Homo sapiens: one gene and its partner. The protein of the gene in region 1 interacts with the protein of each later gene in a pairwise test. Each region holds a gene or a part of one and is shown in the gene's direction. Other genes may lie near its edges. The genes, in order: SGSM1 and CETN3.

Region 1 (3,824 bases):
ACCTCTTTGGGGAGCATCTCTCTCAGTGTCAGAGAGCCAGTCTCTAGTGGAACAGAAGGGAAAGCTCTTTGCCTAGAAATCTGAGAGTCAAATCAGATCTCCCTCCTCCCCACTCTCTGGGTTCAAAGGAGCCACATCTCTGCCTGTCACAGCCTCACCCAGAGACTGCATTGTATGTACACATATCTACATGTGTCTGTGTGTATATCTGTCTTCTGTGTGTACATCTGTTTCCCCAGCCTTCTTTCTAGAAGGAGTGCCTTAACAATCGACATCTCTAGATAGGCTGGGCAGCTCTGCAAGGTTTGCCAGAGCCACTGCAGCCACGAAGGGGCCAACAGAGGCTGGGAGCTGGAAACTGTCCAGTGCTGGCCTGGGGAGCCAGCTGGACACAGCACCCATGAGGCAGGTCAAGAAGAACTTTGGGCTCAACTAGAGCTGGATTCCAACCCCAGATGTGTTTATTTACTGAGGGCTGTGTGTCAGACCCTGGGCTAGGTTCTGTGGATATAGCAGGGACAGGCCCCTTGTAGATGGGCCCTGTCCCTGTCCTCCTGGGGCTGACCTTGCAGCGGAGGAAACACACTCCCAACAGTTACCTTATCAAAATTACAAGGATAATTACAGGCTGTGAACAGAGATGTGAAGGAGAGGCACCCGGGGCTGCAAGAACCCAAAACAGGGACAACTGACCATGTGCAGGGGCCCAGGATATGACGTTTCAGAAGACAGGTGCAAGATGAGTAGGACTTTAAGGTGAAGATAAGAGGGTTGAGAGACACTAAGAAAAACCATTCCTGGCAGAAGGTTTTGTACATGCAGAAGCTTTGTGGCTGGAGGGAACACTGTGAATTTGAAGGAACCGAAGTGACCGGAGCAGAGACAAAGGAGAAAGGTGCAGATGCGGAGAAGGCGGAACATGTGGTCTTATCCCAAAAGCAAGGGAAAGGAATGGGGAGGACATCGAGAACAGGGAAAGAAGGTGATGGAGCTGAAATTGCTGGCCTGTTCACTGCACAATCTTAGACAAGATCTGTCTTTACCTTTATCAGTGTGTGGGTTTCCGTTTATTCATAATGGGGATGAAAATGATTCAGCTGGCAAGATAAACCCTGCGAGAACACCCACCACGTTAGCCTGAGCTCCTCCAGGGCAAGCATCCTTTTTTTTTTTCCCTCTGTCCTCGGTACCACCAAGAGAAAGCTGGAAACAAGGTGGCCTCAGCGTGATTTCCTCCAGTTAAATCTGACCAGCTCTATCTTGGCTCCTTCCTGGCTTCCTTTACCCTCCCTGCCAACCCTTAATTTTGTTTTGGTTCCCAGAGCGAGCAGGGACTGGCTTCCCGTTGCCATAACAACTGCCATTAAAGGAGCCAGCCATGTGATGCCAGTTGATAATGGAAGCAAAGTGACTAACTGCCTTGTTTTCCTGCCTCTGGGCTGGGCCTAGAAAGCCTCTTAATTGGAGGGGAGAATGCAGGGGCTGGTGGGAGGCAGATGAGACCCCAGGAAGGAGACAGGGAGATGAGGCAGGTCCTGGAGTGGAAGCTACATTTAGCTCTGCGACCGGAGCTGGTGGAAGGGCTGTAATTGGGGAGCCATCATCATAGCTGCTGAACAGAGCCTGTTTGGAGAACTGAGCCTCCCAGCCTCTGGGTTAGGGGTGATGAGATGGGAGAGGCAGGCAGGACTTGCTAAGAAGGTTGGAGAAAAACGAGAGAAGCAATTGACGTTACCATGGGGACCCTGCAGTTTTACTGTGACCCAGTGGTTCTTAATGAAGGGGAGCAGTTTTGTCTCCCGTCCCTAGGTTTGGTTGCCAGATAACATCCAGGTCGCCCAGTTAAATTTGACTTTCAGATAAACAGTGAGTAAGTTTTTAGTATGAGTATGTGTTGCTAAATCTGGCAACCCTACTCCAGGGGACATTTGGCAATGTCTGGAAACATTTTTGGTTGTCACAGTTGGGGGTGCTATCAGCATCTAGTGGGAAGAGGCCAGGGATGCTGCTCACATTCCTGCAATACACAAGACACCCCCTCAGCCCACCACCACTAGGAGCACAAAGAAGTGGCCAGCCCAGAATAACTCTTGTTAAGGCAGGAAAATCTGCTCCCCGCTCACCCTACCCATCCTGCACCTGCTGCGCCCTTCACTTCTCTAGGCTAATTTGATACGAATGTACTGTTCTTGAACAACTCATTCTTACTGCTTTTAGATTGTCTTGAATGCATATTTGGAGTCTAAAGCCGGGGTGGGGGTGGGCAGGGGCAGGGAACGAAGTCTTGGCTCCCTAGCCATGTCATTTAGGGGAAACTTCCCCAGAATGCCTCAGTTTCTCACCTGTAAAATGGACTTAGGCCATAGAAGAGAGATTGGACTATGTAATAACATTAGCAATTCCTGGCCGGGCACTGTGGCTCATGCCTGTAATCCCAGCCCTTTGGGAGGCCAAGGTGGGATGATCACTTCAGGCTTGGAGTTTGGGACCAGCCTGGGCAACATAGCAAGACCCCCATCTCTACAGAAAACAAAATAAAAATAGCCAGGCATTGTGGTGCATGCCTGTAGTCACAGCTATTTGAGAGGCTGAGGCAGGAGGATCCCTTGAGCCCAGGAAGTTGAGGCTGCAGTGAGCTGTGATCGCATCACTGCACTTCAGCCAAGGCAACAGAGCGAGACCCTGTCTCAAAAAAAAAAAAAAAAATTATGACCAGGCATGGTGGCTCATGCCTGTAACAGCACTTTGGGAGGCCAAGCTGAGTGGATCACTTGAGGTCAGGAGTTGAAGACCAGCCTGGCCCAACATGGTGAAACCTCATCTCTACAAAAAATACAAAAATTAGCCGGGTGTGGTAGCATGCGCCTGTAATCTCAGCTACTCGGGATGCTGAGGCAGGAGAATCGCTTGAACCCGGGAGGTGGAGGTGGCAGGGAACTGAGATGGCGTCACTGCACTTCAGCCTGGGTGACAAAGCAAGACTCCGTCTCAAAAAAAGAAAAAAAAAAAGAAAAGAAAAATTAGGCATTCCTAATTTCCTACGTGTTTGCTGGGGGCTTCTGGCTTCCTCTGTGCTGGGCATTGTGCCATGAACTTTCTGAGCATTATCCCCTTCACTCCTCATAAAAGCCCTAAGGGAGAGAACCATCATCTCTTTCCATGATAGATGAGGAACTGGAGGCAGAGAGATGTTATGCAGCTCGCTTTAAGGTCCCACTGTCAGTCCGTGGAGAAGTCAGGATTCAAACCTCATGTTGCCAAGATCTAGGGGGATGGCCTCATGACCTTGGCTTACAGTGGGCAGTGGTGGGCAGCTATGAGCTTCAGAAAAGTCCCTGGAAACACAGCTTGGCTTCAGGCATGTGCAGGGGAAGGAAATGGGGCAGGAAAGGTCCATTAGTCCCAGCTTGTGCAGGGCTGTATGTGCCAGGCTGTGCCATTTGAACTTCCCATAGTGGATAATGGGGAGCTATAGAAGATTTATGAGCAAGGGAGGGTTTTGCTTAGGGCTGTACTTCAGGAAGTTTCAGCTAATAGCAGGGACCAGGATAGACAGTTTCTGCCAACTCTTAGAAGAAAACTTTCTCCCTCCCTCTGTTATTTTCTTTCTCCCCCACTTCCGTTCTTCCTTCCTTCCTCCCACAAATATTTATCAAGCATCTACTATGTGCCAGGCCCTGTTCTACAAGCTGCAAACTGAGAAGTGAGTAAAGCAATGTCTTTGCTCATATGCCCTCATTCAGTGTACAGTATAGTGGCAGGAGGGCATATAGAGAAAACAAGAAATATGTATTAAAGGTAACAAGAGCTCCAAGGAAAATAAC
Region 2 (3,824 bases), on another chromosome or scaffold:
TTGAACTGTATTTATTGGAAAGAGAGAGGGATCATAGCTTTCCTAAGATATTCAGACATGGCTATTTAACTGCAAAGGTTAAAGATCACTACATCAATTTGTAAGATTCTTGAAAGTAGTTTGGAGTATTACAGATTTTGTATTACGTTCTTACCATGTTTGTCATAGTGTTTTGTAGATGTTAAATACTGATTGCATGGCTTCATAGTTCCCTGTCAGCTTCTGGAGGGTGCATTTTTCCTAACTCATAGCTTATTTCTGTGAGGCATACACTATTCTTTCTTTGACTGTATTTCTGATGGTATTCTCCCACCCCAGCTCTCTTTCTACTTCCTTTCCAAATTCTGTATTTTTATTTTAGAGCCCAAGTAATGATTTACCTTTACCTAAATTTTTCTTATTAGTAATAATTTTTACCATTGTGAAGGATTTTTTTTCAACACTGATTTGGTCTTTGTTTTAATAATAAATAGTATTTTGTGTTATAAAACATTTGTTCTGTTTCAAGTATAAAAACTGACTAACATAGTTATCAAAACCGGTTTTCTATGTGGTTTCTAGAACCAGTGCAGTATATATTCTTTTCATTCCCTATGACCATGTTTTATCTCCTCAACATTTTTTAATTGGTTAATTTTTTCTAACTGTTCATTATGAATATTCTCAAACAGAAAAATTGTCAGACTAGTACAATGAACACCATTGTACCTTCTGCCTAGATTTAGTAATTAGTATTTTACCGCATTTGCTTTACCTGTCGTGTGTATATTTTTTTCTCAATCATTTGAAAATAAATTTCATATATCAAGAACTCAGTCTTTAGGCCAGGCACCATGGCCCATGCCTGTAATCCCAGCACTTTGGGAGGCTGAGGCAGGTGGATTGCTTGAGCCCAGGAGTTCAAGACCAGCCTTGGCAACATGGTGAAACCTAATCTCTACCAAAAATACAACGATTAGCCAGTCTCATAACCCGGTCTCTAAATTAATTAATTAATTAATTAAATTTTAATAATAAAACAAAAACTTGATCCTTTAATATTTTAGCATATCCATCTACTAAGAACAAGGATATATCTTTCATAAAGCTATGATACCAATGTTACACTTAAGAAAGTTAACAATAATTTTATAATATCATATAATATCTTTCTCATTTCGGTTTTAATGTATTCCAGAATAGGAAGCCTGGTGTCTGTTTTGATATATTACGCAACACTTATTGTGGTGTTGGCATTCACTAGCCACTTAAAAATGTTTGATTCAATGGAGTATTTTCATATAATACCTTCTATGGTAAATAAGAGTTAAACAATCTAAAACATCATCTCATAGTTCAGTGTTTTCAGATGAAGGAAATGAGATGCAGAGCTGTTCTGTGCAGAGCTGTGACTAGAGACCAGGTCTTAAGTCTCAGTGTAGTTTTCTTTTGGCATTATCAAAATTATCATTCATAATTTATGCATTGTTTAGGTATGTATTAAGTCTTAGGGCTAAATGCTAAATACTTACCAGAAGTATCTTCTGAACATTTTTCTTAATTGATACGTGCGCATATGTCGGGTTTTCAAAATTATATTCTATAAGATTATCTGATTTCTTATTTCTAGGTTGCTGTCTTAAACATTATGTTTTATAAATTGGAGATTCTTACTATATTTATAATTTTGGCAAACTAAAAATTAGTCCTTATCCATGATTATTTTCTGCCTTTACATCTATATAGTTACTGGATTACTTTGGTGATTAAGATTACATCTGTAATCTTTTCAAATTGCCATTTTTATTGATACCTTTGAGGTATGGTGACCTGGTTTTAATTATTCTTTAACATAGGCTTTTAAGTATATAAAAGTTCAAAAAATAATAATTTAACTTCTTTTTATAATTTTATTATATTTTCATTCTTTAGAAATCTAATTTACATGCATGATATGTTCAAGCTTACTTGTAAAGGAAGGATTTGCTAAATGAACTAGTAGAATAAAGATTATAAAGAGGGTTGTTTAAAGAACCTTGAAATGTCAAGCATTTAAAATGTTTTAGCAAGTATGTACAAATATGACTGTGATTGACTTTTTTGGTAACATTATCTTTTCCCCAGTTAATATTATAGAATACTAATTTGTAATGTTTATCACATTATATGTATTTTTGCATCCAAGAAGTTACATTTAATAAACATGTTCCACTTCCTAACAAAGAAGTAAAAGCAAAAAGCCATGTCTTAATGTAATAATTTTGCATAATGTAAAATTTTTTAAATACTTAGTGTAAAATGGTAGTCGTGGATTCTGAAAAAATAAAATGTTTATATTTCTGACTATTTCATTTTCTTTCTTACCACAGTAAACCAAGAGGAGTTCATTGCTATTATGACTGGTGACATTTAAAGAATTACAAGGATAAACACTAAGAATGTTGCAGTTACCATCTTATATTCTATTTTTGTGCCTGGAGCCATGTGAAAAAAACCAACTTAGTTCTTTTATCCTAAAGGACCAAAAATAAGCATCTTATATATCTGTATTTTACTACTGTTAAGTTTCTTTGTATGAACTGTGTTGTTAGTACTCAGATAGTTTAGCTTTGTATTTATAATAGAGCTTTTATATAAAGTTTTAAAAATTGAATGTGTGATATGTGTTCTTTGAAGGTTTTTTAATTTAACATTTATAGTCACTTTTTAGTGCACACATTTTCCAGACTTTCGTTAATAAAATATTTATTTTATTAGAATTTTAAAGTTTGGTAAATTTGTTTTTATTCCTAGTATCTGTTAACCCTCAAGAGTGGATTTCTTAAATCTTCCCTTTATAATTTTACTAGTTTCTGAAACAAAAATTGAAATACAATTAGCAATAGAGTGGCACATTTTTCCATTACCTAACATTTCATCAATTTTGACATTCTATATTTTAATACAAGCTGACTCAATATAAGCCTAATTCCTTTTTTAAGAGTCCTGTCTTTGAGTTTAGAAGGAATAAGTATTGTGCAGATAGACCCATTTATCCTTGTGTATTATGTTTCTTAACTTGGTATCATTGTAAGTATGAAAGTTAATTTTCTTCTGAATATTTCCTTAAACAAATTGAATGAATACAATTTGAATTTTCTAACTTCTTGACTGAGAGATTTAAATTTTGGAATTTTGATTTGTTAAGGTAATTATCACTCAATTACATGTCACAGTGATGAAAATAGAAAACTGTAAGCCACAGAAATAATTTAAGTCTATGTTTTACCTATATGAAGGAACAGTCTGTGATTCACCAGGAAATAGTAGAGACACAGTTTCCAAGTACTGGTGGGCTCTTCTGCCTTGTAGAAGTGTATGTTAGGGGGAAACAAGTGGTTATGGAGATCGATCATAGAAAAAAATAGTACCTATATGGATCCTTCACTCATATCTAGTACTCGGTGTTATGGGCTCTCCCAGGAACGGAATTGAGTTGTCTATTTCAGCAATCTTTCTTTAGAATTCTTGTTTTAAATTTTTAAGTTTAAAGTGTAGTATCATTTGAGGCGCTTTAAATGTTGTGAGCCTTTTAAGAGTATTACATTAAGGGTTGTCCACTAGAAATTTAACACAAAATCAGTAGGGAATACTATAGCAGTAGTGACATTTCAAACAGTTATCTAGGAAGCAAGTGTATATTAAGTCATTCTTGTATTGCTACGAAGAAATACCCAAGACTGCATATTTTATAAAGAAAAGAAGCTTAATTGGCTTACGGTTCTGCAGGCTTTACAGGAAGCATGGTGCTTCTGCTTTTGGGGAGGCCTCAGGAAGCTTACAGTCATGGTAGAAGGCAAAGGGGG

The links.
Region 2: the proteins of SGSM1 (region 1) and CETN3 interact in binary tests that used the Homo sapiens proteins (3 or more experiments, as listed by UniProt).

The regions. Positions count from the first base shown.
Region 1 is NC_000022.11:24,809,180-24,813,003, forward strand, and holds part of SGSM1 (small G protein signaling modulator 1), read left to right. Parts: intron 1-3,824. UniProt on the Homo sapiens protein: Interacts with numerous Rab family members, functioning as Rab effector for some, and as GTPase activator for others. Promotes GTP hydrolysis by RAB34 and RAB36.
Region 2 is NC_000005.10:90,392,632-90,396,455, reverse strand, and holds part of CETN3 (centrin-3), read left to right. Parts: intron 1-2,348; coding exon 2,349-2,392; 3' UTR 2,393-3,824. UniProt on the Homo sapiens protein: Plays a fundamental role in microtubule-organizing center structure and function. As a component of the TREX-2 complex, involved in the export of mRNAs to the cytoplasm through the nuclear pores.